Regions from separate parts of the Homo sapiens genome. Here regions 1, 2, 3, 4, 5 and 7 are each linked to region 6. Evidence: fine-mapped expression QTL. A gene starts in region 6. Each other region holds a variant in brackets. All regions are shown on one strand. Distances are from middle to middle. Region 1 has its middle 21 kb from the start of RASA3. Region 2 overlaps RASA3 (RAS p21 protein activator 3). Region 3 overlaps RASA3 (RAS p21 protein activator 3). Region 4 has its middle 17 kb from the start of CFAP97D2. Region 5 overlaps RASA3 (RAS p21 protein activator 3). Region 6 holds the start of RASA3 (RAS p21 protein activator 3). Region 7 overlaps RASA3 (RAS p21 protein activator 3).

The links.
Region 1: its variant is fine-mapped to the expression of RASA3 in whole blood (TOPMed, PIP above 0.99).
Region 2: its variant is fine-mapped to the expression of RASA3 in whole blood (TOPMed, PIP above 0.99).
Region 3: its variant is fine-mapped to the expression of RASA3 in whole blood (INTERVAL, PIP above 0.99).
Region 4: its variant is fine-mapped to the expression of RASA3 in whole blood (TOPMed, PIP above 0.99).
Region 5: its variant is fine-mapped to the expression of RASA3 in whole blood (TOPMed, PIP above 0.99).
Region 7: its variant is fine-mapped to the expression of RASA3 in fibroblasts (GTEx, PIP above 0.99).

Annotation. Positions count from the first base shown.
Region 1 is chr13:114,151,518-114,155,580 of GRCh38, reverse strand. No RefSeq gene overlaps it. Among named protein-coding and RNA genes, the nearest start is that of RASA3, 21 kb to the right of the region's middle. RefSeq lists an enhancer at 3,783-4,063. The variant C/T (reference allele first, on the strand shown) is at 1,762.
Region 2 is chr13:114,105,138-114,109,200 of GRCh38, reverse strand. All of the region lies in intron 1 of RASA3 (RAS p21 protein activator 3), which reads left to right. It overlaps RASA3-IT1 (RASA3 intronic transcript 1), which reads left to right. Exons shown (of 2, transcript NR_046544.1): 1 at 1-560; 2 at 1,433-2,887. Among named protein-coding and RNA genes, the nearest start is that of RASA3-IT1, 2.6 kb to the left of the region's middle. The variant T/C (reference allele first, on the strand shown) is at 1,644.
Region 3 is chr13:113,995,684-113,999,746 of GRCh38, reverse strand. RASA3 (RAS p21 protein activator 3) reads left to right here. Exons shown (of 24, transcript NM_007368.4): 20 at 80-162; 21 at 3,008-3,216. Among named protein-coding and RNA genes, the nearest start is that of C13orf46, 24 kb to the right of the region's middle. The variant G/A (reference allele first, on the strand shown) is at 2,379.
Region 4 is chr13:114,159,770-114,163,832 of GRCh38, reverse strand. No RefSeq gene overlaps it. Among named protein-coding and RNA genes, the nearest start is that of CFAP97D2, 17 kb to the left of the region's middle. RefSeq lists an enhancer at 1,181-2,081. The variant G/A (reference allele first, on the strand shown) is at 2,401.
Region 5 is chr13:114,013,897-114,017,959 of GRCh38, reverse strand. It overlaps RASA3 (RAS p21 protein activator 3), which reads left to right. Exons shown (of 24, transcript NM_007368.4): 12 at 609-723; 13 at 1,689-1,763; 14 at 2,628-2,751. Among named protein-coding and RNA genes, the nearest start is that of C13orf46, 42 kb to the right of the region's middle. The variant C/T (reference allele first, on the strand shown) is at 2,543.
Region 6 is chr13:114,130,842-114,134,904 of GRCh38, reverse strand. It overlaps RASA3 (RAS p21 protein activator 3), which reads left to right and starts at 2,282. Exons shown (of 24, transcript NM_007368.4): 1 at 2,282-2,470. The coding sequence starts at 2,416. LOC107987192 (a long non-coding RNA gene) reads left to right here and starts at 3,902. Exons shown (of 2, transcript XR_001750050.2): 1 at 3,902-4,063. RefSeq lists enhancers at 1-261, 91-270, 2,559-3,186, 3,357-3,856 and silencers at 1,977-2,076, 2,107-2,766.
Region 7 is chr13:114,041,279-114,045,341 of GRCh38, reverse strand. All of the region lies in intron 3 of RASA3 (RAS p21 protein activator 3), which reads left to right. Among named protein-coding and RNA genes, the nearest start is that of RASA3-IT1, 66 kb to the left of the region's middle. RefSeq lists enhancers at 1,506-1,605, 1,866-2,005. The variant G/A (reference allele first, on the strand shown) is at 1,715.

The DNA of each region.
Region 1 (4,063 bases), 21 kb before region 6:
CCCTCACACCGTGCATCCCACACCTTCCCCCTCCAGGTAACACCCTACACCCCTACACCCCACCACTGGCCCTAATCTTCCATCCCCATGCCCCACACCTCCACTTTCCCCTTAGCCCCTCACCCTCATGCCCTGCACCCCATACCCCACTGCTCCCACAGCCTTCCACCCCATGCCCCACACCTCTACCCTGCCCAAAGCCCCCACCCTCACCCTCACACCCCACCCCTCCTCATAGCCCCCACCCTTACATCAAACTCCCCCTACATTCCACCCTTCCCTAACCCCCCACCCCGTGCCCCACACCTCCACACCCCACTCCTCCCCTGAGTCCCCCACTTCCACACCCCACAGTCGCACACACTACCGGTCTCCCAGCCTTCCACCCTCACACCTTGCACCTGCGCACCCTCCCCCTCCCCCAGGCCCCACCATCATGCCCCCACACCTACACCCTCTAACTCGACCTTCTAACTCCCTGAGCTCCCACACTCTGCATCCCACACCCCACACCCCACCCACCCCGTTAGCCCCCACTGTCCCATGTCTCATGACCCACACCCCACACCCTCACAGCCCCCTCCACCCCCAACGCCCCACTACAGCCCCCCACTCACCATAACTCCACACCCCACCCCTGCATCCCCCATCCCCACCCCTGCATCCCCCATCCCCCACCACTTTGCCCCATGTTCCCAACCTCCCCAATCTCCCCCATGCCCCACACCTTAACCCCCTACCCTTATACTCTACCTGCACATCCAGCACCCAACCCCAACTGCAATCCCCTACACACCTTCCACGGCCACTCCGCACCCCCACACCTCACGGGCCTCCACACTCCTCAGAGCAACTGGAGCCTTGGGCCTCAGTGGTGGAAAGAGGAGGGTGAGCCTCAGCAGCTGCAGGAAGTAGCAGCCTCCTGGGACAGCTCATCTAAGGAGGACAGGCCCCCTTAACCAGAGAAGCCCCACAGGGTCTAGACACAGACAGAGTAAGGCTTTTTTTTTTTGAGACAGAGTCTTGCTCTGTCACCCAGGCTGGAATGCAATGGCGCGATCTCGGCTCGGCTCACTGCAACTTTCACCTCCCGGGTTCAAGCGATTCTCCTGCCTCAGCCTCTTGAGAGTAAGGCACTTTTTAACAAGGGAAAGGGGCTGAGCGTGGGGCGGCGCTTGCAATCCTAGCACTTTGAAGGCCTAGGCGGGAGGTGCTTGAGCTTGGGAGTTGGAGGTGACAGTGAGCTAGGATCACACCATGGCACAGACAAACCAACAGACAAAAAACGGGAAAGGCACAAATGAAACGATGAGAGCAGCAGAGAAGTGTGGCCACAAGGGGAAGGAAAACTGAGCAAACGTATCTCCTGGAACAAAAACATCAACCTTCCAAATCAAGACACACCCACAGTGGAACACAGAATGCTTAGTGAAATTTTTAAAAGAGGATTGGTTAGAAACTATAACATGAAATATGACAAAACCAAGGGCCACTGCATCCTTCCTCTCAGTCTACATAAGTAAATAAATTCGACTCACCTCTTCAACAAAAAGACTCGTGGGATCATTCGCAAAGTGAAACCCAACTTTACGTTGTGTGCAAGAAACAAGCAGAAAACACAGCAGCCCAGACCTTCCAAGGCAGAGGTCGAGGCGTGCAGGCAGGTCCTGAGAAAATGTCAACAGGCATGGAGATGATGGAGTGATGGAGATGATGGAGATGATGGAATGAGGAGATGATGCAGTGATGGAGATGATGGAG[C/T]ATGGAGTGATGGAGTGATGGAGACTATGGAGATGATGGAGATGATGGAGTGATGGAGATGATGGAGTATGGAGTGATGGAGTGATGGAGACTATGGAGATGATGGAGATGATGGTGTGATGGAATGATGGAGATGATGGAGATGATGGAATGATGGAGATGGTGATGATGGAGTATGGAGTGATGGAGATGAGGGAGATGATGGAGTGATGGAGTGATGGAGAGATGGAGATGATGGAGATGGTGGAGTGATGCAGTGATGGAGATGGTGGAGTGATGTAGTGATGGAGATGATGGAGGGATGTAGTGGTGGAGATGGTGGAGTGATGCCTCTAGGCTCTCGGCAAAATCTGCTTTTATCCTGGACCCTAAATTAAGTGTGTGGGAATAATAAAGATATTTTTAGACTCATACGGACTCAGAAAGTTTAGGCCCTGTATGATTTCTTCAGAGCAAGTTGGCTGAATTCTCACTATCGTAGTCGGAAGTCTGGCACAGACTCTATCTAAAATTAGTGAGTAGAGAGTGTTGTAATAACAGGAGGAGGTTGGAAATGCCTGACCAGAGGAAATAGTCGTCGTGGTTGCCATGCGGGCGGACGGGGAGATGGTTGAGGCCACCACTGCCGCCTCCCAGCACAAGCCCTCAGCGTTTTTAACCAAATGCACATGTTGTGCTTTCAATGTTGCTTTCAGCAGGAAGGCACATGGAGCTTTCTGAGTACTGACCCCGTCCCCCTCACACTTGCCTTTTGTTCTCTGAGCTGCCGGCCTCAGGCAGTCCGCGTCTTGTTTGAGTAAGGGAGGCTGCCCCGTTCCTGCTACAAGCGTCCCTTGCCGGCATTGCTGCTGCCCGTGTGACTTCCTGACTGGACATTTGCCACTGGCAGCAAGAAGCCCAGGCCCCTCCGATTCTGCTCCAATTAGGCCCAACCTGAGGGGCCTGACCGGAGCCCCATTTCCCCGTTGTGTCTTGACCAAAAGAATACCAGGTGGGCCATTACTTGCTTTCCAACAAACAGGTGGTGAGGAAAAAAACTTTTCCTTCACTCACTTATGTTTTTTAGTGACTGGAGTCCTGCAAATTGAACTGGCAAAAGTAGATTAACAGGAGAAAAAGCGTTACTTCATATGCATGTGGCGGCTTCACGAAATGAGACAAAAACCCCGCAGAGGCAGTCAGACCAGAGGCTTATTCACGATTTTAACAAAAGGCAATACATTTGTGAAGTGATGAGCTACAGGAAAACAGTGTTGGGTTCCTAGGGAGGTAAACTGTGAGCGGGGAATGGTGTGAGGAAACCACGGAAGCTGGGATTATTTTTGTGCGGGTCCTTGAGTGGAGCTCTCCCAGTCAGGTGAGGGTGGTGTCTCCAAGCACAGCAGGCACTGTGGCGCCGGGGAAAGAGCTGGAGCCTAGGACTGTCACACCTATCACCCGTGGGACAACAGTTATGTGTAGACTTGGGACTGGGGGACAGGTTCAAACCATGGTCTGCTACTTGCTGGTGACATCTCCTTAGGCAAAATCCTTAAATTCTCTGTAGAAAACAGCTCTAGCAATAGCATCCATTTCATGGGGTTACAGAAGAATTGAACGACTTAATAAACGCTAAGCACCTGACCGTGCCTGGTGTGCAGCTAGCTGTCACCACGTGAAGTGCTTAGCACAGCACTGGACAGGACCCTGGATGGAGGGCAGCGTGGCCGTGTTTGCTAGGGCTGCATTGACAGTCGTCAGCTGGGCGCTGCCTGCTTCAGCACAGACGATGCCGTTCCTCAAGGCGGTTTTATGCCTCTTCTTCAGAGTCAGTAGCACGTTCTCTAAAATATCCTTAAATATGGCAAATCTTTGTCTTTAAAGGTAAACTTGAATTTTATTTTTCAATACAGACCAAAGTAATTTGGAATCAAGTATTTTACAGGAAGTGAGTGATTCAGGTAGGCAGTGACACTGACCCAGAAGTCAAAGCGCCGCCTGGCTGTTGCAGCAATACCGGGCGGTGCCTAGGCTCATTCACTCGGCCCTGCTACCTACTTGGAAGAGCGCCCGGGCAACCGCCTACAGTCTCGCAGCTGTAACCTCCTCATCTGTCGAATGCAGAGGACAACACTTCATACCTCACAGGGTGATCTGTTCTGTTGGTTCACCTCGGAACTGAGGGGCTTCCTTGGACACTAACACTGGACGGTCGGGGGCAAACCGTGCAGTTGCCCCCCTAGAATTAGATGATCCGTGTGCACGTGGCACTGGTGAGTGCTCTGGAAATAGCTTTTCTTATTTCTTAAAAGTTGTTTTTAAA
Region 2 (4,063 bases), 26 kb after region 6:
CCACCTGAACGTCCTGTGACGGTCACGGAGCCGGTCGTGTTCGGGGGCCCGTGTGTGTTTGTCAGGCCAGGACCCTGCCGCCTGCCCTCTGGCTTAAGGAATCCAGTTGGGGAGAAACACTCCCTCTGAGTACCCCTGGGGTTTTGACCCAGCTTGAGGTTGTAAACAGGTGGAGGGGGCCGAGTGGAGAGGCCTTGCTGTGATAGAGACCTGGGCCTGCCCTGCCACCGTCCGCCGGGAGCCCACGGCAGCCTCGCCCTCCGACACCTGCACGCTGCATGCAGTGGACTGAACTGCAGGATGCCTGTGTTGCTGCCAGTTCTGCTGTTTGGGAAAAACTCTCTGTGTTAAGTTGGATCTTCCTTGTGACTGATTCAGAGGAGCCACGTTGTTACGGAAGGGCTGGGACCCAGACACAGGGTCCAGAGTGTCCTCGAGGTATCAGAAGAACTCCTGGAGAGCAAGCTGAGGGCTGTGTCGTCGCCACACCCTCCGTGGGTCCCTGCTCCTGAGTTAGGCTGTGCCCAGCCGCCCAGTGACTCAGAAGCTGTGCACACAAGGTGTGAATCCCACCTTGCTCTAGCACCAAGAAAACAGCACCTGGTGATGGGATGTGGATGGCGGACGCGGGGTGACAGACAGGGGATAATGGACATGGGGTGATGGACGTGGGGTGATGGACATGGGGTGATGGATGCGGGGTGACGGACGGGGGATCATGGACGTGGGGTGATGGACGGAGGATGACGGACGGGGGGTGATGGATGGGGGATGATGGACGCGGGGTGATGGATGGGGTGACGGACATGGGGTGACGGATGGGGGTGATGGACGCGGGGTGATGGACACGGGATGACGGATGTGGGGTGACAGATGGGGTGATGGTTTCAGGGTGACAGACATGGGGTGACGGACGGGGATGACAGACACGGGGTGACGGATGCAGGGTGACAGACATGGGGTGACAGACGCGGGGTGACAGACACGGGGTGATGGGGGATGACAGCTGCGGGGTGACGGACAGGGGATGACGGAGGATGATGGGTTGTGGGATGATAGGACTTCTCAGCACTGGTCGCTCCTGCCTGGGGGTGGGAGTGAATGGGAAGGAGAAAGGCTCGGAGAGGTCCTTACCCAGTGGCCAGGAGTGGGGCTCAGGTTTTTCGTAGTGTTCAGGGGATCCCGCAGAGCCCCTAGGGGATGGCAGGGCCACCCCCACCATGCCGGCGAGGAAGCAGGCTTGGAGAGGCTTACCCTCTGAGGCGGCCGTGGAGAGTGGCACTCAGGGGCTGGCTCAGGTCCCAGGCTGGGTGCGAGCTGATCCGCGTCAGCCTCTGGTTCTGAAACACTGAGCCTGGCTCCATTCTGAAAAGTGCAGCAGTAATTTGAACCTTGTTCTGAATGGCCCCGCTGATTCATCCTGCTTTTGCAGGGTCCTGCTGAAGGACAGCGGCTTCTGCTTCCTCTGATCCTGGCAGCCTGGAACTTCCTGAGAGGACTGGGCATGTGGATAGCCATGGGGGGGGACGTCCTTTAAACTGGGGAATGGGCTCCCCTAGACACAGTCGCTTCCACAGGAATCTTCTAGAGCCTCACCCAGGGCAGAGCAGACACCCGCAGCAGCCTGGAGTTCCGGGGAGCCC[T/C]GGCCGCCTGCCTGGGTCATGAGGGACAGGCCAGCCCCCAACCCTTGGGTAGGAAGAGCCCAGCCCTCAGACAGGACAGGCACCTGGGTGAACAGACAGCTTCCCCTGCAGGAGGAGATGCAGCTGTTCAGAAGCAGACCTCCAGCGTGGGAAAATCAGACCCATGGTGTCAGGGTGCACGAAGGCAGGACACACAGGCCCGTCCCCCGCGAGGGTCAGGACACGAAGGAGGGACACACAGGCCCGTCCCCCGCAAGGGTCAGGATACGAAGGAGGGACACACAGGCCACATCCCCTGCGAAGACCAGGACACGAACGTGGGACACACAGGCCTGTCCCCTGCGAGGACCAGGACACAAAGGCAGACACACAGGCCACGTACCCCGTGAGGGTCAAGGTGCCCAGGGTCAAGGCTGGAGCCTGAACGCTGTCCGCAGACCGTGGCTGGATGGAGACTGCCATGTTGAAATGCCTGCACATCTGATCCAGATGTGGCCGTGCACGAGAGAGGAGGTGTGGGCGTGCACACCAAGCCGTCCTTGCCAGATGTGGCTCTGGGGGGGCCTGGCTGAGGGAGGGAAAAGAGTTAACTTTTTCTACCTGGAGACTTAACTGGCTAGAATGAATATCTATTTCTTTGTAATTAAGAACATTTTAAAATACAGAAAAATAGTTTCCTTATAAGACTTTTAATTTTAAACATACGCAGAGCTTTCTAAATGGGACGCAGCATATAGTTTGGTTTCTGTGGGCCGTGTGCCTTCCATGTGCCTGGAGGATGGACAGGTGGTTTTGTAATGTGTGTCATAGTTTGCACCCAGCTGGTTCAGGTGTTAAGCCAAAAACAATTAATAAAGCAGTGGTGGTGATCAGTTCAGACAGAGCCCAACCCCTCCCCACGCCAGGGGCTTATGCTCCGGAGCGGGAAGCGTGTTCTAAGTGGGACTTGGGTGTGAATTTCTACACCTACGCTAAGTAAAATGGGCATTTATTTACAAAGCTCCGAATTACATTGTTTTATATTTTATGTTTAAACTTCATTAGGAAAAATTGCCATTATTGTTACACGTAATGAGTTGACTGTCAATATAAACGAAGGAAATGTTGGCAAAAGAAAAATTAGACCTATCATTTTTATTTACAATAATCTCAAATGCTGTTAAATTTGTAAGCATTTCTGTTGCTTTATAGATGTTTTGGAAAAGCTAATTTTAAGTTTTCAAGAATGAGAAGTTGTCCCCACTGAAAGCCTGGCACGTTAGCGTCTTTCTTTGCGTTAGTTTCTCTCCATTCTTATTTTGCTCCGTGGAGATACGGTGCGCGCACACATATTCAATATTAAACACACATCTGTAAACACACACAGGAAACATTAAACCCATATGTTTCTATGTATTATTGAAAGTTCATCGGAAAAGACAGCAGAGGCCGTGTGCCGCTCTGCCATGCGCCCATCCGGAGGCTGCCGTGTGCCGCTCTGCGATGTGCACCCATCCCAACACCCGGTCATCCTCTTCCTCCCACTCAGTGCCTGCGATTTCCTGCCGTGGCCCCAGAGGAATGGCAGCTCTTTAGGGTCAGGACTGCTCAGCTCAGGGCGGGTGCAAGACGCTCTGTGTGTCAGAGTCTTGCACTGTGGAATGCCCGCTTCCTTTCCCCCACGCTGATTCCCCCACTGTGTAGCTTACCGTAATAGTTTCACAGCTAGCTGACTTCCTTAGGCCACTGGAATATTGATTTGTTCTCATGTTCTCTTAAAAATATTTTTCAAAGATTGAGAAGACACCGTAAATATGCCGTCATGGTCAGGTGTCAGGACAACGGACGGGCTGCTCAGAGCCTGGCCTGGTTTCTGTCGTTTCTGGAATGCTGTGGATGTGCTGCAGACGCCAGTGCCTCCCGTCCAGCCTCAGGCTGGGTGAAGCGAGGCGGAGGGAGCGTCTGGTCAGTGCTGGCCCCGGATGTGCCTGTGGCCTTGTCAGGCAGGAGGCAGGTGAGGAGCTTCGATGCCGGTGGTCCCTGTCCCCGTGCTGGAGGAGGGGGGCTGCCAGTGCTGCTCCTCCTTGGCTGAGGCCTCCTGAGCCCTTTTCCCCTAGGTGTCCCCTCCCAAAGCCGGGCTCCTCATAAATTTGGGGGTACAGAGCTCTGCGGCACCCCTTGGTGGAGTTGCCTCTGGAGAGCTCCACTGCTGCTGTGAACCTGCCTCTGCTTGCTGGTCACACGGCTGCCCAGTGAGCACCCCTCAGTGCAGGGTCCATGGCACCCTGGCATCTCAGAGGGCTGGCGGCTGCTGGGGATGAGGCTGGAGCCCAAGGGCAGGGTGGGGGCTTGCGTGGGGGTCGTCCTCCCAGTCCCGGACCTGCCCTCCTCCTGGGGAGAGCCCCACCCACCCTTCTGAGGTGACGGCTTGGCCCTGGAGA
Region 3 (4,063 bases), 140 kb after region 6:
GCAGAGACCCCTCAGCCCCACCCGGACCCCAGCCGGGACAGCGGGGCCCGCACCCACTGACAGTCCATCTCTGCTGCAGGGGACCAGCCTCTCTACAGCATTCCCATCGAGAACATCCTGGCAGTGGAGAAGCTGGAGGAGGAGTCTTTCAAAATGAAAAACGTGAGTGTGGGGCCCCCAAGCCTCTCTTTCGGGTTGAGGCCTGGCCAGGTTTTCTCTGCTCTCTTCCCGTACCTGGCCCTGGGCTCACCCTTCCCCACCCACTGCACTCCAGGCTTCTCAGAGTCTTCGTGTTACTCGGGTTGTTCACCAGGTGCTGGTGAGTTTGTGTCGGAATCTCGCATCAAAGCAGCCACACTCTCTGTGCCCGGGGTCACCGGGGTGGGGTGGAACCTGCCGGAAGGTGGGGCCTGAGCTGCTTCAGGTGGCGTCCCCCGCAGGGTCCCCAATGTCAAGGGGCCCTCTGTCAAAGACATCCCAGAAGCAGGCTTGGGACCGTCTGGAATTCCTTTTGGAAGCTTTTTTATTTTGATATAATTTTGAATTTATAGAAGTTGCACGAGTAGAACAAGTACTTTCCACACACCCTTGACCCAGACCCGTGTGTGGCCTCGTTCCCCGGTCACGCTTGACCCGGGCCCACGTGTGGCCTCGTTCCCCGGTCACGCTTGACCCGGACCCACATGTCGCCTCGTTCCCCAGTCACACTTGTTCCTTCTCCCTTCACGGTCCCGCCCGTGCTTTTCTGAATGTATCAACACTTCCAAGTGTGTTTCCCACCGTGCAGTCCCCAAAACCACAGCAGCCACCATCGCACGTCGCCGGCGCGACCACATTCGAGTTTGCCGCTGTCCAGTCCCGTTCTTCCGGCTGTGGTTCCTTCCCCTCTGGATCCAGTCTGCGCTGCATTCTGCTGCCCCCTCCGTCTGGCCCACTGGACACTCCCAGCCTTTCTTTGTGTGTGGTGGCCTTGGCATCTTTGAGGCGTGCAGGCCTTCGGTTTTCTGGACATCCCTCCCTGTGGGTTTGTCGGATGTGCCGACGTGGCAGGTTCTGATGATGCATTTCTGGCGGGAATCCCCTAGAGGTGTCCGTGGCGTCACCATTGTGTGGTGGCCTCCCAGAGTCGGCCGCTGGCCACGTTCTCCCTGGTGACTCAGTGCCCCTTCAGCCAGTGACCCCGCCGTCCGTGCCATCCTGAGGCTGACCCCGTACCCTGACACATGCTGGCTGGGACAAGCCTTCTGTGCCCCGACTGCAGCATGAGGGTCATAGAACAGTTGCAGGGAAGGCACAGTCCCTGGGCCTCGTGCCAAAGTTGACGCATGTTCCTTACCATTGGCAGAATTTTACTAGCATGTTATTCACAGGCAGTCCAGACAGATCCTGCAAAAGGCATAAGTTTGGAGAGTAATTTGAAGAGGAGGGCATGGGAAGAGGAGGGCTGGGAAGAGGAGGGCTGGGAAGAGAAGGGTTGGGAAGAGGGGGAGATGGGAAGAGGAGGGTGTGGGCTCAATGCCTGCTGACTGAGGGGGATGGCCGGAACCTGGCCCTGAGACCGTCCCTCGAAGGAAGCAGTGTGGACATGTCCTGGAAGCACCTCCAGCCCTTCACATAGATTCCCAATAATTCCCTAGTTTCAGCCGCCTGTTCCCAGCTGTTCATTCCCACTGACTTCCTCAGAGCCCGATTCCCCTGAGGCCACTGCCAGGCCAGGCTCTCACCAGCTGGGGAGACCTTTCTGAAGGCTGCTCCTGGTGGCAGGGCCGAGCCTGGGATGATGGCCAGGACGCCCTCCATGGGGGATCACAGCCATGCACGGGGGCGTCCAGTCCGAGACCTATACACATGTGCCGGGTGCAAGGCGGGAGGCTCCTGGCCTCTGTAAATAAGACCTCAGCTGTTCACCAGAAACCTGGAGCCCAAATCCTCCCCAGATGAGTGCAGAAGGCCCGTCCCCTAGAGAAGGCCACTGTCCCCCTGACTCCTGACTTAAGGGCAAGTCCCACATGAGAGCCCTCCCAACCTCCAGTCAGTCTCCTACTCAGAAAACCTGTCTTCTGTGTGCAACAGAGCCGGCTCCTTCTGGGAGCTTCTGACCTCCAATCCTAGGATATCTGTCCCCCCTGCCCCAGCACCCCCGTCCCTCTAATCCTAAGGCTTCTGTCACTCCTGCCCCGGGAGACCTGTCCCTCCAATCACAGGACCCCTGTCCCACCTGCCCCAGGACCTTTGTGCCTCCCATTTCTTCTGCCTTTGACACCCTTTGCCCCCACCCCCTGCTTAACTAACTTTGAGTCAACGCCGACTACAGCACCAGGACTGCTCACTTCCAGCTTCTGCTGACACCTGCCCTCGTTTAGTCTTTCTTGGTGGCT[G/A]CAGGTTCAGTAGAAACTCTATGCCAGGCTTTGTCTCCGGGACATAGGAGAGTGCTGGTGCTCAGTCATGTTTGTTGAATGAGTAATAAATGGTAAAGGTTGTTGCTGCCCCGAGACGCTTCAAGAGGAAGCAGCCCCCTAACCCCAGCTGGGAGGAGGAGGAAGAATCCTGGGCTGGTCAGTTGGGGAAGGAGCTGAGCAGGCCGGGCCACCTGGGCTGACACAGCACGAGCACCACGTGGATGGGATGCCTGCAGTCAGCTGCAGGAGGGCCTTGTGGGGAGGCCACAGGGCCCCTCTTTTGTCTTGAATGGAGACCTCCAAGGCTCCAGGACATAAAGGGCCTTGGCCAAGCTGTTCCTGGCCACCTGGCCACATCTCCAGCTGCACCAGTTCTCACCTCCATTCCCCACGGCCCCAGCTGTCAGGTTTTAGGGTGGCAGAGAGCTCCATGCACCCCCTGGCCTTGGCCTCTTCTGGGGCTTAGAGCTCCAGGACTTTTGGGCCTGTGCACCCTCAGCGTCCCCTCTTACGACTCCGGCGAGGACGGCCAGGTGCCTGGTGGACTCTTGCACGTGCTCAGCCACGAGACCTCATGTGCGCTGTCCTGAGCCCACCTGTGTCCTCAGATGTTCCAGGTCATCCAGCCAGAGCGTGCGCTGTACATCCAGGCCAACAACTGCGTGGAGGCCAAGGACTGGATCGACATTCTCACCAAAGTGAGCCAGTGCAACCAGAAGCGCCTCACCGTCTACCACCCGTCCGCCTACCTGAGCGGCCACTGGCTGTGCTGTAGGGCGCCATCCGACTCGGCTCCGGGCTGCTCGCCCTGCACTGGGTAGGTCTGTGCCTCGGTGCCCAGCTCGTGCACTGTGCAGGAAATGTGGCCAAGGGGCTGAGTAGGGAGGGACCAGCAGACAGTGCATGCCTGCCTGTAAGCTGCACATAAACAGGGCTGCCCTCGCCTCCTCCCAGGAGCCTCCCACCCGAGGGGTCCTCCCTCGAGGGAGCATCTGGGGCCCAGCCTCTGGAAGGCTCTGCGCAGACTCCAGGGTGCCACAGGCCTTCGAGGGTCTTCCTGAGGCCCTGCCCCGGGGGAGCGGGAGGTCAGGGTGAAGGGGGACTCCCCAGGCCGTGGCCATCCTGCTTCTCTAGGAGGAGGCTGGGAGCAAGCCCCTCCCTGAAAGCTTCGTCTGGCCCAGGACACCCACCTTGATTCCACATGACGCAGCAGCCCGTTGTCTTCCCGGCCCCCCATCAGCCGGGTCCCCATCAGCCGGGCCCCCCATCAGCCGGGCCCCCCATCAGCCGGGCCCCCCCATCAGCCGGGCCCCCCCATCAGCCGGGTCCCCCATCAGCCGGGCCTCCCCATCAGCCGGGCCTCCCCATCAGCCGGGTCCCCCATCAGCCGGGCCCCCCATTAGCCGGGCCCCCCCATTAGCCGGGCCCCCCATCAGCCGGGTCCCCCATCAGCCGGGCCTCCCCATCAGCCGGGCCTCCCCATCAGCCGGGCCCCCCGTCAGCCGGGCCCCCCGTCAGCCGGGCCCCCCGTCAGCCGGACCCCCATCAGCCGGACCCCCCGTCAGCCGGGCCCCCCGTCAGCCGGGCCCCCGTCAGCCGGGCCCCCGTCAGCCGGGCCCCCCATCAGCTGGGTCCTCCGTCAGCCAGCCCCCCATCAGCCGGGC
Region 4 (4,063 bases), 29 kb before region 6:
CACCCAGTCTGCCCTGTTCTTAACACATGACCACTCCTGCCCCTGCCCTCGGCCTGGGCCCAGCTGAATGGATCACGGAAATGATCTCTCTAGAGACTGGAAGTGTTGGGGCGCAGCTGGTTCTCTCGGCATGTGGCTGGCAGAGACACTAGGAGACTGTGGGAGATGAGATGAGGGAGAGGCAGGGGAAATAGCCTTCAGGGGAGAGGACTTTGAGAAGAGGGACCAAGAAGCAGGTCCAGGAGGCCTGATGGGCTCTGGGTGGCTTTTCCAGCCCTGGCTTTAGATCTGCAGGAAGTCCAGCTGCCCTGGGTCTGTGGCAGACTCTGCAGTCTTCCAGGAAACTCCTTTTCTGTCTTGACCTGTGAATGGAGACTGTGTTGGAGGCGTTGGCAGTGAGGTAAAGTCACTCCTGTCTCCCCCTAGTTTTGTACATTGGTAATATTTGTTCTCCTGGAAAAATAGAGACAGGAACCCCCGCCTTCTTTATTTTTATTTATTTATTTATTTTGAGATGGGGTCTCACTCTGTCACCCAGGCTGGAGTGCAGTGGCGCGATCTCCACTCACTGCAACCTCTGCCTCCCGGGTTCAAGCAGTTCTCCTGCCTCAGCCTCCCGAGTAGCTGGGATTACAGGCGCCTGCCATCACGCCCAGCTAATTTTTGTATTTTTAGTAGAGACAGGGTTTCACCATGTTAGCCAGGATAGTCTCAAACTCCTGACCTCAAGTGATCCACCCACCTTGGCCTTCCAAAGTGCTGGGATTACAGGCGTGAGCCACTGTGCCCGGCTAACCCCTGCCTTCTTTAATAGAAAAATTCAGATTTCTAATTGACTGGCCTTCTTTATTTTCTTTCGCCTTCAGAAAAACTGGGAACAATATGGAAGATATTTATGCTCATGCTCCCAGTGGAGGAAATTTTTAATGCCTCGAACTTCCTAGAAGAAGAGCTCTCTGTTGTGCCTTGATGGCCGCATGGCCGTTGCTTGCTAAGACCCAGCATATGCAGTAGCCTCAGACAGAAATCCAGTCGCTCTGGTGAGTAGCCACCCATCGCTCGTCACACTCTCCCGAGACTCTGGCGAGTAGTCACATATCGTGCATCACACTGGTTTTGAAAAAGGACCCGAGCGTCTCTCCTGAGATCCCTGCACTCTTCCCTGGCGGCCGTCACTTCACCAACAGTGAGCTAAGTTCGTGACGCTTGTTTCTCTCAGGACAAAGCAGAGATTTAGGTGTCGGAAAAGCACTGCAGGCACCTTATCCCTGGACCAGAGACTCCCTTGGTCTGCTTTGTTTTTAAAGTAGAAACGGTCATTGTCAAAATGGCCCTCAGGCACAATATTTACACAGCAGAGACCCAGTCGCAGCCGCCTCACACCGAGGTCAAGGGGCAGAGACAGCAGGAACCGTGAGCTCTGGTTCCTGAGCCAGTGTCTCCTCCCTCTACCGAAGCCCTCGTGTTTGCACTCTCTTGACGAAACACCGAGCTATTTAAGTGGGAATAATATAGTTCCTTCTGTAGACAGCACAGCTGATGCCGTGGTCAAGGACAAAAATGTTAAAAGGTTTGGCCTTTAGTCGAGGACGGGCAGTTGTTGCTTTCCTGGAGGTAGCTGGACGCAGGCGGGTTTTCCTCCCGTGAGGAGCACAGCAGCCTGGGCGGGTGAGGAGGAGCCAGGCTGGGCAGGGCGGCTGTGGGTTCTCGACTTCCTCCTCCTATTCCGGGTGCCAGGAGCTGTTTACTGCCCTGTGAGAGCTTCCTGACAGCAGCTTCACTGGCCCCCTTCCAATCGAGTTCCTGCCCTCTCATCTTTGTGGAGACCACGCTGACTATGATTTCCGAAAATTTACTTGTTCTCTGCCAAATCCAAGGATTCCCACTCCCTCCCACCCATACCCTCGCTTTGCTTCTTCCCGGCTCTGCACACTCCCCAACTTGCTTCTGCACCAGGGGCCCCTCTGGGGAAAAGCAGATGTCCCTTGAGCTAAAGAAGTTGCAGTTCACCCAGGCTGGGCTGTCCTGGAGGTTGTGGGCACGTGAGCGTGGGAGGGGTCGTGTGTTCCTCCACGCTCACCCAGAGCAGCCCCCTCTCGGCTTCGTGTAATATGCTGGTGTCATACATACTTAGGTCTGTTGGAAGAAAATGTCCCAGGACTCACATAAATGATAAAAACCGTCGTTCCAGGCAGCCCATGGCTGGCATCTTGAGTGCCAATAACGTGCTCCCTGAAGCTTTCCCTGGTGGACACGAAGCAGCACTTCGCTCGTGATGGCTGATTGAAAACATGCCGGTGAACTGGACGACGGTGAGCACGACCCCCGCCCCCCGCCGCTGTGGCCGCCGCGGGGAAGCCTGCGCGTGAGTGGGACACACTTTGCCCTTCGTATTCTGAG[G/A]ACAGAGGTTTGGCGTGTTAGCGAGGCCGCCAGAGTTTCACTCACACCGCGAGGCGTTCTCTAGTTAGAGGCGAGAGGGCACGACCGGAAGCGGAAGCCGCGTGACTGGGGGGGCGGCGCCGTGCCCGCCTTGGGAAGCTCGCTTCCGGTGAGCAGAGGGATGGAAGAACGCGTGCGTTTAACGTGGCTTCTGCTGGCTCCGCATGAAACGGGTTTCCGAACAAACCATACTGGGTCCCTGCCACATGTGCGTTGACCTCATTGGAGGCGAACCTTTGCTCAGGAAACTGATTCACCCAGTGGGTGACAATCAGGAGGGGCACGGAGGGCCAACGTGAGCGTTCTCACAAGCTGGGGACGAATGACGAGGCAGTGGAACAATTGCGGGATGAGGGGGGGTCACGGTGAGTCCTGCTTTGAAAATGAGTCAGGAGTAGATACAACATTTGTAAAGATGACCTGCTACCAAAAGGCCTTTGGTAAAATTCAACATCCTTTCATGTTAAAAACTCTCAATAAGCTAGGTATTGATGGAACATACCTCAAAAGAATAAAAGCCATTTATGACAAACCCACAGCCAATAACATACTGAATGGGCAAAAGCTGGAATCGTTCCCTTGAAAACTGGCACAAGACAAGGATGCCCTCTCGCACCACTCCTATTCAACACAGTATTGGAAGTTCTGCCCAGGGCAATCAGGCAAGAGAAAGAAATAAAGGTTATTCAAATAGGAAGAGAGCAAGTCAGACTGTCTCTGCAGATGATATGATCCTATATCTAGAAAACCCCATCATCTCAGCCCCAAATCTCCTTAAGCTGATAAGCAACTTCATCAAAGTCTCAGGATACAAAATCAATGTGCAGAAACTGCAAGCATTCCTATACACCAATAATAGACAAGCAGAGAGCCAAATCATGAATGAATTTCCATTCACAATTGCTGCGAAGACAATAAAATACCTAGGAATACAGCTAACAAGGGAAGTGAATGACCTCTTCAAGGAGAACTACAAACCACTGTTCAAGGAAATCAGAGAGGACACAAACAAATGGAAACACACTGCATGGTCATGAACAGGAAGAATCAATGTTGTGAAAATGGCCATATTGCCTACAGTAATTTATAGATTCAATGCAATTCCCTTTAAACTACCATTGACGTTCTTCACAGAATTAGAAAAAACTACTTTAAAATTCATATGGGACCAAAAAAGAGCCGATATAGCCAAGACAATCCTAAGGAAAAAGAACGAAGCTGGATGCTTCAGTTACCTGACCTCAGACAAGGCTGCAGTAACCAAAACAGCATGGCACTGGCACAAAAACAGACACATAGACCAATGGAACAGAATAAAGAACTCAGAACTAAGACCACACATCTTCAGCCATCTGATCTTTGACAAACTTGACTAAAACATGCAATGGGGAAAGGATTTCCTGTCTAATAAATGGTGCCAGGAAAACTGGCTAGCCACATCCAGAAAATTGAAACTGGACCCCTTTCTTACACCTTATATTAAAATCAATTCAAGATGGATTAAAGACTTAAATGTAAAACTCCAAACTATAAAAACCCTAGAAGAAAATCTCAGCAATACCATTCAGGACACAGTCACGGGCAAATATTTCATGATGAAATCACCAAAAGCAATTGTAACAAA
Region 5 (4,063 bases), 120 kb after region 6:
ACAGACCCAGTTAATGATTCTTTTTTTTTTTTTTGAAAGTCCCATTTGCCTTTGAAATCCCGGGTAGAGTGAGTGAGTGGGGAGGGGAAACGGCTCCTGGGGCTCGAGGACAGCTCAGGTCCCCTCCCTGGGGCACTTTGGGAGCCCACAAAAATGGAGCACAGCTTCCCTCAGGACCTGCCTAGTGCTGTTTCCGGACGCCCTGTTCTAGAAACATCTGGCTGCACCTGCAGCCACTGTAGCTGACAGGAGGGTTTGCTTCTCTGCTGGCCCTTGGATGCTGCCAGGGTCTGGTGCCCAACTCTCTGCACAGGCAGAGGCCGCAGAGGGGAGAGGGCGGGAGGGCGAAGGCCAGCCAGGCTCCTCCTGAGCTGGTGGCCACGCAGGTAGCCGAACGGTTCCCTCTGGCAGTGTTGACACAGGACGGTTCCATGGCCAGGGCCTCCAAGCACCTGGCCTGGTTGTGCTCCTTGTAAAATGTCAGGAAGCCGACTGATGGGCGTGCACTGACCTCACAGCCCACAGGCAGGTGCTCGGGGCCAGGCTCTGCTCCGTCTGCACTTCCGCGTCCCCAGGAGACAAACGCTGTCCCCATCGCCATTTCCCAGGGACCCCAACACCATCTTCCGAGGAAACTCACTGGCGTCCAAGTGCATCGACGAGACCATGAAGCTGGCGGGGATGCATTACCTGCATGTCACCCTGAAGCCCGCCATCGAGGAGGTGAGCACGGGGCCGAGAGTCCTCAGCCTCACGAGGCGTGGGGAGGATTTCCCCCAACAGAGGGCACTGCACTGGGATCCAGCCAGACCACGAGCTGGGCTTGAATGTCGGCCCCTCTGGCCTCGCCACGGGGATGCTGATTCATTCACTTTTATCAAGAGGATGTTCCCTGTGTACTCCAGAACCTTCCAAATTCTCCCAAATTAAAACTATACATAAGAAAATCCACCACTCCACAAAGGAGAACATGCAAGAAAAGCCTGGCTCTTCCCAGGGAGACCTTCTTTCTCCACATGTCCTGCAGTCCCCTGTGTTTGGGCCCTGGCTGCGTGGCATGTTTGAGCTGCACGCCCAGTCCTCACCCGACCCTCTGATGCCCGCACACCCACTCCTCACCTGACCCTCTGATGCCCGCCAGGCTGTGCCCCCCGTTTATGAGCGGGTTTGTAAACAGGTTCTTTGCAAATGTGAGAAAATTGAACATAGCATTCTGGTTTGCTCTGTGGGCAAAATCATGGCAGCATTTTGAAGTAAAAATATTATTAAAGCCCTGTGAGGCCTAGTCCGTGTGGGCTGGTGCACATCACTCCTGAGAAAGCCCGATTCGTCTGATCGCGGGCGCACATCGCTCCCTGAGAGAGCCCGGCTCGTCTGATCGCGGCCATGGACTGGGCCCCGTGCCTAGTGTTTGCGCCTGACCTCTCACTTGTCCCTCCGCAGCCAGTGACACAGGCCCAGGGTTGCCCCCTTGCAGCTGAGGCTCGGGACGACACCACCCCACGGTGGCCCTGCAGTCCGGCCTCACCGTGCCCCTCCGTGCCAGTGGCCGGGTTCGGGGAGCTGTCGTGGCATTTTCTGGATGAGGCTCAGGGTCTACATCTCAGCCAGGCCTGAGACCCCTTCCACCCTCCCTGCCTGTGCCCCCAGAACCCACTCACAGAGCCCTGTCTTAAACCTCTCCCCAGATATGCCAGAGCCACAAACCCTGTGAAATCGACCCTGTGAAGTTGAAAGACGGAGAAAACCTTGAAAACAACATGGTAGGTTTTGTTCATGAACCAACCAAAGCCAGTCACCTGCTTGGGGTTTTTCAGCCGATGGCTGCCTGGAAGCTCTGACTCACCCCGTGACCCCGGTTGGGGTGGGAGCAGGACCAGGCGTGGGGATACCCGCCTCACCCGGCTGCAGTACGCTGGCTGCACTACTGGGAGGCCTCAGCCACCACCTTTGGCCTGGCCTGTGTGCCGGGCTCTGCGTCCCCTGGGGGGTCCCGGCCAGCTCTTCCTCCCCTGGAGTGATCCGGTCTGCATGCCCCAGCTCTGCCCCCCCGGAGGGTCTGCCCTGCACACCCTGCTCTGCCTCCCCTGGACAATCCTGACCAGCTCTGCCTCCGCCCCGGCTCCTCCTTCCCTTGGGCAATGGCTCCTGCCCCTCCCTTTTCCTAGGACAGGATGGCCTCCCTGCCTCCCCAGGCTGTCCCCAGAGCTGTGTACTGCGTTTTAAAACAGCAAAACTCCCTGATGTTGAACTTGCTCCAACATTTTAGTCACTTCACATGATACTTCTTGCAGAGCGTGCTGTTTCGTCATTTCTGTATGTAAATGACAGAGCTCTTTGCCTTGGGCAGGCACATTCTAGTGAACGTCCATTCCCCACTCAGTAAACGAGGTCGGGGCCGAGCCGGGGAGCCGACGTGGTGCCTGTGTAGTGATTTTCACGCGTGAATTGCCACAGCTCCCAGCACAGATTTCCAGGGAGTGGCTGTTCACACGTGTCTCACTGCCGCAGCTGCCCTGCGCCCGCCCTCAGCCCCTCCCCA[C/T]GCGCCCCTCCCTGGGCGTGCCCTGGTGCTACACGCACCTGTGGGCAGCCTCGGGAGTGGGTCCCAGTGCCGTGTCCCGTTGCAGGAGAACCTACGGCAGTATGTGGACCGCGTCTTCCACGCCATCACTGAGTCTGGGGTGAGCTGCCCGACCGTCATGTGTGACATCTTCTTCTCCCTCCGGGAGGCGGCGGCCAAGCGCTTCCAGGGTGAGTGCCCTGAACACCCTCATGTTGCTGAGAAACTGCCATAGCGCTGTGCAGGGTGACTCCCACCCAGGCAGAACCCCCCGCAGCCCTGGCTAGACTAGAACTGCGGGGTCGTGAACCCCAGTTCCGATGCTGGATTTTTCCGGGGTTTGTGCCCGGGCCAGTGTTCCCTAGTTCACAACCGCAGTGGTCTCTGGGGGACCCCAGCCCTGGAGTTCACCTCCACAGTAGTCTCCAGGGGACCCCAGCCCTGGAGATCACCACCGCAGTGGTCTCTAGAGGGGCCCAGCCCTGGAGTTCACGACCACAGTGGTCTCTGGGGGGGCCGGGAAGGGTGGCCAGGCTTTGTCGGGGTGGAATGTGAATTTTCCTGATGTGGACCCCTGGGTTTTCCCAGTGGTTTCTTTTTGTGGCCGACCCTGGCAGGGCCCAGAGTGGTGTTGGGGGCTCTGCCTGCCCGTGTCTTCGAAGAGACAGGACCCCTGGGGGAGCTGCCCTTTCTTCAAACCCCCAAGCCGGAGATCCCCTAGGGACCTGGGCATCCAGCACCCAAACCCCACTTCTCAACCTTGCCGACCCTCAGGGAGGAGCTGGGTGCCTGCACCCACCCATCACCTGCGATACTCAAGACCCCGCCAGGACTCAGGCTATGTATGGGGCGCTGAGAGGCTCAGCGAGGGCCTTGCTGCCGGCTCCTCTCTTCCTTGCGTGTCCTGTGGCCTCGGGACAGCTGCAGACACCCCGGGGTGGCCATGGTCCTGCAGAGCCGTCCACGCTTCTGTGTCCCCAGGAGACAAACGCTGTCCCCACCCCTGATTCTCAGGACATCAGACAGTCAGACAGCGCCGGCCGAGGGGCCCAGGGTTCTGGGGGAGGCAGTTCCCAAGCACATCCCAGCCCCAGACCCACTTTGAACAAGGTGGAAGTGAAGAGATAAAACACATCCTCTCACCCAGATGAGCACAGACCACTGTGGAATGAGACACCAAAGGGGCTGCGCTGTGTGGTGGTGATGAGAGATGGAGAGAAACAGGGAGAGATGGAGAGAGAGGCAGAGACAGAAGGAGAGAGACAGAGAGAGACAAGGAGAGAGAGAGAGAGACAGGGAGAGACGGAGAGAGAGGCAGAGACAGACGGAGAGAGAGGCAGAGACAGACGGAGAGAGAGATAGAGACGGAGAGAGAGAGATGGAGAGAGACAGAGACAGACGGAGAGAGATGGAGAGAGAGATCGAGACGGAGAGAGAGAGAGAGAGACAGAGAGATAGAGACAGGGAGAGAGAGACGGAGAGAGAGAGACAGAGAAAGAGAGA
Region 6 (4,063 bases):
CCAGTGCATTTCCTTCCAAGGGGCTCCCGTCCTGGCTGCCACTGCTGCAGTCTGGAGATTCACTCCTGACCCCAGCTGTCGCCTGGAAACAAACACCAAAGCGAGATCCGCGTTGAGTTTATCAGCAGGCCTGTGAGGGTGGAGGGATGGCAGAGAAGCAGCTTTGTGGCTGGGCTGCCACAGAGGACTCCACTGGTCCTCGGAGAAACACAGGAGCCGGCTTGCTTCCAGTGGCTCCAAACGGAAGCATAGTCTCCGTCGTAAAGCAGGGGTGTGGATGGCGTCCACAGCACCCACTGCAGACGCCACCCAGGGCCAGCGCTAGACGCAGAGGCTCTGGGTTGGAACCAGGGGTGCCGCCTTAACCTCCTGTTCTGCCCCAGTGAGCACCAGGCTTGCAAGGGCTGAGGATGAGAGAGGCCCCTGTGGCTGCAGGCTCCCAGCAGTCAGGGGAAGAAAGGCCATTCATTCTTTCAACGCATGGAACTGCTTTTTAGGAAGTGAAGGTAAGCAGTGGAAAAAAATAGGCCTCTATCTTCATGAAGCTCCTGTTCCTCTCCATGCAGTGTGTGTGTGTTTGTGTATGTTCACGTAGGTGTGTGTATGTATGTTTAGTGTGTATGTCTGTGCATGTGTATGGGTAGTATATGTGTGTGCTGTCTGTGTTGTGTGTATATGAACATATGTGTTCATGTGTATATGTGGTGTGTGTATGTAGGGTGTGTGTATATGTGTGTATATGTATGTGTGTACACGTGTGTAGTATGTGTGTGGTGTCTGTGTGTGGTGTCTATGTGTATGTATATGTATATGTAGTGTATGTGTGGTATATGTATGTGTGTATATATGTGTAGGGTGTGTGTGTGGCACTGGGTGCAATGAAGTTTTGCAACATAGAGGAGGGAGTGTAGTCTCAGTTCATATACACACCTACAGTTCATACACACACACAAACATACTCCTCAGAGAGGAGGTCAGGGAGGAGGAGACCTCGAGACAGAAGAAAGGGAGGTAAGGGTGGTACCTGCCCATGCTGGGGTCTGCAGGGGGACTGGGGGGGGACCTGCCCATGCCGGGGTCTGCAGGGGGACTTGGGGGGGGACCTGCCCATGCTGGGGTCTGCAAGGGGACTTGGGGGGGGACCTGCCCATGCCGGGGTCTGCAGGGGGACTTGGGGGGGGGACCTGCTCATGCCGGGGTCTGCAGGGGGACTGGGGGGGGACCTGCTCATGCCGGGGTCTGCAGGGGGACTGGGGGGGGACCTGCCCATGCCGGGGTCTGCAGGGGAACTGGGGGGGGACCTGCCCATGCCGGGGTCTGCAGGGGGACTTGGGGGGGGGACCTGCCCATGCCGGGGTCTGCAGGGGGACTGGGGGGGGACCTGCCCATGCCGGGGTCTGCAGGGGACTGGGGGGGGACCTGCCCATGCTGGGGTCTGCAGGGGGACTTGGGGGGGGGACCTGCTCATGCTGGGGTCTGCAGGGGGACTGGGGGGGGACCTGCTCATGCTGGGGTCTGCAGGGGGACTGGGTGGGGGAGACCTGCCGGTGCCGGGGTCTGCAGGGGGACTGGGGGGGGACCTGCCCGTGCCGGGGTCTGCAGGGGGACTGGGGGGGGACCTGCCCATGCCGGGGTCTGCAGGGGGACTGGGGGGGACCTGCCCATGCCGGGGTCTGCAGGGGGACTGGGGGGGGAGACCTGCCCATGCCGGGGTCTGCAGGGGGACTGGGGGGGGGAGACCTGCCCATGCCGGGGTCTGCAGGGGGACTGGGGGGGGGGAGACCTGCCCATGCTGGGGTCTGCAGGGGGACTTGGGGGGGGGACCTGCCCATGCCGGAGGTCTGGGGTGGGGGGCTGTGTGTGCGTGTATGTGTCCCCGCCCCCCTCGTGCGTCTGCAGCAGGTGCCTTCGGATCGCATCTCAGGAGCTGGGGCTGGGCGCGGGATTCCTCCCCTGCCAGATCGTTGTACGTGAACTTCTCTTGGCAAAGTTCGTCCGCGAGTCAATCGCTCAGCCTCGCTCAGCGGGCCCGGGCCGCGCCGGCGACCTTCCTTCGTCTCTTCCGCCAGGCAGCCCGCTGGGGTCCCTTCCGCTCAGCGGCCAATCCGCGGGGCGGGGGCGGGGGCCGAGGCCTCGGGGGAAGCCGATCCCTGCGCCCCCCGGGTCTCCGCCACCCGCCAGCGCCGTCCCTGCCAACCCCGCCCCTGCAGGGCCCGGGCCAGTTGGGAGCAGGGGCCGGGCCGCGGGCGGAGCCTCCCGGTCCCCGCCCTCGCCCTCGGCCAACTGGCGGTCTTGCAGGCGGGCGGACCCTCGGCCGCGCTCGGGGCTCCGGCGCCGCCGCTCCTCCTGCTCGGCCTGAGCTGCCCGGGCTCGGCGCGCGCTTGGGGCGAGGCTCGGCGGGCGCGGACGCGCAGCATGGCGGTGGAGGACGAGGGGCTCCGGGTCTTCCAGAGCGTGAAGATCAAGATCGGTGAGTGTCCGCCGGCAGCCACGCGTCCGACCCCCCGGCCCGACCCTGTCCTCTCCCGCGCCCGCCTCCCCTCCGCAGATCCTTGCTGGGGACCCCGGCGGAGACGCCCTCCAGGCGCGGCGCGCTCCCCGGAGAACGGCTGGTCCGGCTCCGCGGCCCCTCCCCACCTCCCCGCCTCCCCGGGCCTCGGGCTGGGTCGAGTCGGCTCCGGGGTAACGCGGCTCCCTGCGCCTCCTCTGCGCCCGGAGCGGCCCCGGTCCCTGGTAGCGGCGGAGGAGGTGGGGTCCCTGCGCCGAGGGACGTCTGTCCGCGTGTGCGCCCGAGCGTGTGCCCCGCGTGTTTGCAGGAGTGCGCGCGCCTGAGGCTGTCTGGGCGCCTGCACTTCAGGTGTCAAATCCACTGACGTCGGGGTCTCGGCATCTCCCTTTCTCCGCTGCGCCCAGAAACTTCCTTTCCGGGGAATGTGGAGGCTCCTTCACGCTTCTCCCCAGGGGCGTGAGGCCCCGGCGCGCTGCTGCTGCTGTGCGCGCGCGTCTGTGCCTGCGTGCGCGCGTGTTTGTGTGTGCTTGTGTTTGTGTGTCCATGTGTGGGCGGTGTGTGTGCGCGTGCGTTTGTGGGTGCATGTGTGGGTGCGTATTTGTGTGTGGATGCATGTGTGCGCGCGTGTGTATTTGTGTGTGGGCGCGTGTGTGTGCGCGCGTTTGTGTGTGTGCATGTGTGCGTGTGTGCTGGTGGGGCGTTCTGGCTGAGGGCTCCCGCGGGGCGGGGAGACCCCGGACCCATCGGCACCACGTCCCTTTCCACTGAGAAGTGGCGGGCGAGCTGGTGGCGACCAGGGCCTGCGAGGCTGCGGTTTTTCTCTGGGCTTCAGCAGCTTCTGAAGTGGGCTCCCGGAGGCGTTTCCGGAGAGGAGGCTGTGTCTGGACTTCTGGTTTATCTGGAGGGATCTGCTTTTCCCTGGTTGTTTTATCTTGGGAGAGTGATGTGGAAGTCCTCCCCCTCCCCCAGAGCAAGACCGTTTCCTGGAGTGACTGTTCCATATTCATGCCATGAGTGTGCTGGACCACAGCGCGGTTCAGGCTGGAGAGGCTTCCAGGGCCTGCAGTGTCGCGGTCCCCACGGTCCTTCTCCCCCACTGAGCCGCACTTCGCAGCCGGCCTCTTCCCGTGTGAAGAGGCCTCCGGGAACGGGCTGAGTGTCAGTTGTTGATGACATTTGATGCTGCCGGAGGCATTCCAGCTCCCCTAAACCAGCGGGCTGTTTCCTGTCGGCTTTATTTTGGTTTGCGGATCATCGCTGAGACACTGTCTTGATATTTGGCCCAGAAGCGCTGCAGCTAGGATGTGGCAGCACTTCCGCTTTGAGTAGTCCAGAGAGGAGGGATTTCTTTTGTTAATGTGGTTTAAATCCGCTGTCACTTTCATACAAGAAAGCCAGAGCTGGCGCTCCCTGAAGTGCCTGAGGTCGCCTTGCCTGGGTGGGGAAAGGTCGCGGCCCGTGGGGGTCAGTTTGCTGCTCTTTCCTTCAGCCAAGGCTGCTTGGCTCAGCCAGCGAGTCTGAGGAGTGTGAGAAGCACTGGGCTTCCTCAGTCAC
Region 7 (4,063 bases), 90 kb after region 6:
CCTCTCGTGGTGAGAAGGCAGCCGCCTTTGCCCAAGTGAGAAAGGGAGGCCCAGAGTGTTCGGTAAACTTTTCGGTGTGACTCAAATAGATGGGGACAACCCTGTGGATTAGGCACATCAGAGAAATTTAAGTAGACGCCGTGGCTTTTAGATCAGGCATTCTCTCAGGTCAGCATCTGGAGATACGAACACGCATGCTTCAAATGTCCACGGTCCCCATTGTTGAATGTGGCTGGCTTCTAGAAGGAAAGGTTGGGGGCTGGTGACAGAAGTGACCCCACGTCGGGAATGAGGTGGCAGGGGCAGGGATCCCTTCTCGAAGGGATTTTAAATCCTTTTGAATGTTGTGGATTTTGTTCTGTTTCTGTGTTACCTATTAAAAAATTAAGTGAAGTACTTCTAAAATTAAAGACTTGTAATCATGTGCCAGTTACAAGATTTTTATCCACGTAAATATGTGACTTCTCCCGTCCCAGTTTCAGCTCATAAAAATGTGAAGACACAGTGACATTGCAAGTATTTAAAACTTCAGACTTCAAAACTGACCCTCCTGTCCAGCTGAAGGCGTCTTGGAGTCTGAAGATTTATCCCTTTTCACTGAAATATATTGCCCAACTCAGTTTTAAGAAGTTTTTGCTTTCATGTGGCTTTATTCCTGTGAGACTCAAAACTGAGGTTCGTGTTGTGGGGGAAAGGGGAGGTTATGCAAGAGCCACGCAGCGGTCGTCAGAGGAGAGGACAGAGCCCCCACTCCGGACCCTTGAAGTCAAAGGCGCCCGCCCAGGGCTGCCGGTGGGAGGGCGGGGGGCTCAGCGAGTGAGGCGGCGGGGGAGCTCAGCGAGTGAGGCGGGGCGGGGGGCTCAGCGAGTGAGGCGGGGGGGGAGCTCAGCGAGTGAGGCGGGGCGGGGGGGGGGCGGGGGGGCTCAGCGAGTGAGGCGGGGCGGGGGGGGCGGGGGGGGCTCAGCGAGTGAGGCGGGGCGGGGGGGGCTCAGCGAGTGAGGCGGGGGGGGAGCTCAGCGAGTGAGGCGGGGCGGGGGGCTCAGCGAGTGAGGCGGGGCGGGGGGGCTCAGCGAGTGAGGCGGGGGGGGGAGCTCAGCGAGTGAGGCGGGGGGGGGAGCTCAGCGAGTGAGGCGGGGCGGGGGGCTCAGCGAGTGAGGCGGGGGGGGCTCAGCGAGTGAGGCGGGGCGGGGGGGCTCAGCGAGTGAGGCGGGGCGGGGGGCTCAGCGAGTGAGGCGGGGCGGGGGGGCTCAGCGAGTGAGGCGGGGGGGGAGCTCAGCGAGTGAGGCGGGGGGGGGAGCTCAGCGAGTGAGGCGGGGCGGGGGGCTCAGCGAGTGAGGCGGGGGGGGCTCAGCGAGTGAGGCGGGGCGGGGGGGCTCAGCGAGTGAGGCGGGGGGGAGCTCAGCGAGTGAGGCGGGGCGGGGGGGCTCAGAGAGTGAGGCGGGGCGGGGGGGCTCAGCGAGTGAGGCGGGGCGGGGGGGCTCAGCGAGTGAGGCGGGGCGGGGGGCTCAGCGAGTGAGGTGGGCCAGGCGGAGGTGTCCTGGCTGTCGTCCACCCTCGTGGTCTGCGCCATTAGAGGCCATTGGAGGGAGTCCACGTGGTGTGTCACTGGATTTCTCTCTGAGCCTCCCTGGTGTTCCTTCTCCCACATGTGCTGGGGCCTGTTTCCTGTGCCGGCCCCCTTGGTTCTTGATTTGGCTCTCGCCTGCCCTCAGTG[G/A]TGGTTTCAGCGTCCCGTGCAGCTCCAGATGGCCTGTGTATGTCTGTGTGGCAAGAGCTGAGCCGATGAGGTCACCAGGCTGATCTTAGGAACCCATGAGTGCCTGTGTGCTGTATCTACGTCCGGGTAGCTGTGGAACTGGCCGGCCCTGGCTGTGAGCGGGGGTCCCGGAGCTGGGAAGGGGCTTTTTCCAGGGCTGTTCCCAGGGCTGCTTTGCTTTGCAGAGTGGATGGTGTGAGGTGCAGCCGGCTCCCCTGAGGACATCAGATGAAGATGCTGACGTGCATGGCAGGTGTCAGCAGCACTGGAGGCAAACTGTCCTGATTCCGTCTCTCTCCTTTGGGCACTTGGAAAGCGTCTTTGTGCCTCTTTCCACCTTCCGCACCTCCCACCATGTCCTGTGGCCATGTGGTGCTCCATCATGTGGCCGACCTTGCGCTGTCCCATAGGGTCTGGAGCTGGTGCTGAGCTGGGCGTGTCTCAGACCCTCTGAGTTTGCAGACAAAGGAGGGGCCTGGTGGCCCAGGCCCACGGGCTCTGAGATTAGTCACGGAATGGACCAGTCAGGCTGAGAGGTCTCGCTCGCATGAGCCCGCGAGGCAGAGGAGCTCCTGAGGGAAGATGCGTCCTGGGACCTCGCAGGGTGGGGACGCCAACATAGGAAGGAACGCTGGCAGGAAGGCAGGGACGGAAGCTCCCTCTCCCTGCAGCCCCGGCCTGCTCGTCTGTGGGGTGTGCAGAGTGGTACCTGCTCCTCCAGGGTCACCGCAGGACCGACTGAGATGGCACCTGTGAGAGGCTGGCAGTGGAGTGTTCCCGAATTTACTGAGGCTGGACAGAGAATCAGGCCCAAGCATGTGGCTGCTGGATGCCAGGCCAGGGTTGTTCCGATGGGAGCCTGCGGAAGTTTTTTGAGACACGGAAATATAAAAGGATCTTCCTTGGAAGAGAGAACCGGGGCTGGGCTGCGCTGTCCTGGCGTGAGGCAGGGTGGCCGGGTAGGAGGCCCAGGCCGCTCCCGGGAGCCCAGGTCATGCACAATGTGCTCAGACCCTGTGGCTGCGGACGCTGCGGTGAACCGGGTCTGCGGGGACCCAGAGTTTCTCACTTCAGTGACTGGACCAAGATCCTTAAGGAGGGCGTGTGTGTCTCTGGGTGCAGAACGAAGACGTGAGGAGTCTGCCAACATTTCCTTCCTCACTCCTGCTCTCGTGTGTGCTCTGTGATGGGCTCAGACTTCACATGTGTGTGCGACTCCCTAGGAGTTCACGTGCATCGGTCAACAGAGGTGCATGTGCTGCCGTGGGTGCTCACCGTGGTGGGTGGCGTGGTCCGCAGTGTGCGGAGGCCACTGGCAGGGTTGACATGGTGGTGCCATGAAGGGACGCAGGATGGGAGATGGCTCGGTGCCCAGCGCCTGACAAGCCCTGTCCTGCCGGGGATGGGATGGGCACACGTTTGCCGCGCCTCGGGAATGTTTCTGGAATGAGGTGAACGTATAAGCAGATAATAATGGTTGCAGATGCGAATTTACACATATAAATCCATACTAGGTAAACGTATATTGTACAAATATATTCTGATACGTATTTTCACTGGAAGCGTAGCCCCAAAGTACTAAGCCTGTTTAAGGCACGGGAAACTGTTTAGAGTGGACGTTCCCAGACTTTGGGGCCCACACAAGTGCCCAGGGACCTGTGGTGGTGCAGATTCCAGCCCACACCAGAGCCTCTGTTCTCCTCCGTCTGGAGAAGGCCAGGAATCTACACTTTCAGGCTCTCCAGGGGTCCCAGAAGGCGGCTCATTCATTACACTTTAGAGGCACAGATTCAGACCAACCCACGTCGCGTGGGAAGGTGGCAGCTCATTCTGGCTCTCAGTCCTGCCTGTGAATAACCTGAGCACCCACATGCATGCACACACGTGCGTGTCCACACACACGGAAAGCACCCTAGGCACACGTGTGTTTCAGGCTGTCGCTCGCACGGGTGCACACGTGTCTCTTGTGGCGTGATGCTGCTGCCTTGGTGGTGTGTGAGGCACGGGGTGTTCATTTGTGAGATCAGAGCTCTGGTGCAGCCAGCTCCGAGGCACCTCCTGCTGTGAGAACTGGCCACGGACCACAGTGAAAGTGAGGCGCACATTGCCGATGGAGCGGACGTTCGCGCCTTCACAGCGAAGCCTCTGGAACGCCTTACTGGAAGGGACACAGTGGAGACTTACCGCTGCACCTGATTATTTTGACTTTTTAATATCAATTTTTAGAGATACAGTGCCACCATGCCCGGCTCATTCCTTTATTTTTTGTAGAGACAAGTTTTCACCATATCGCTCAGGCTGGTCTCAAGC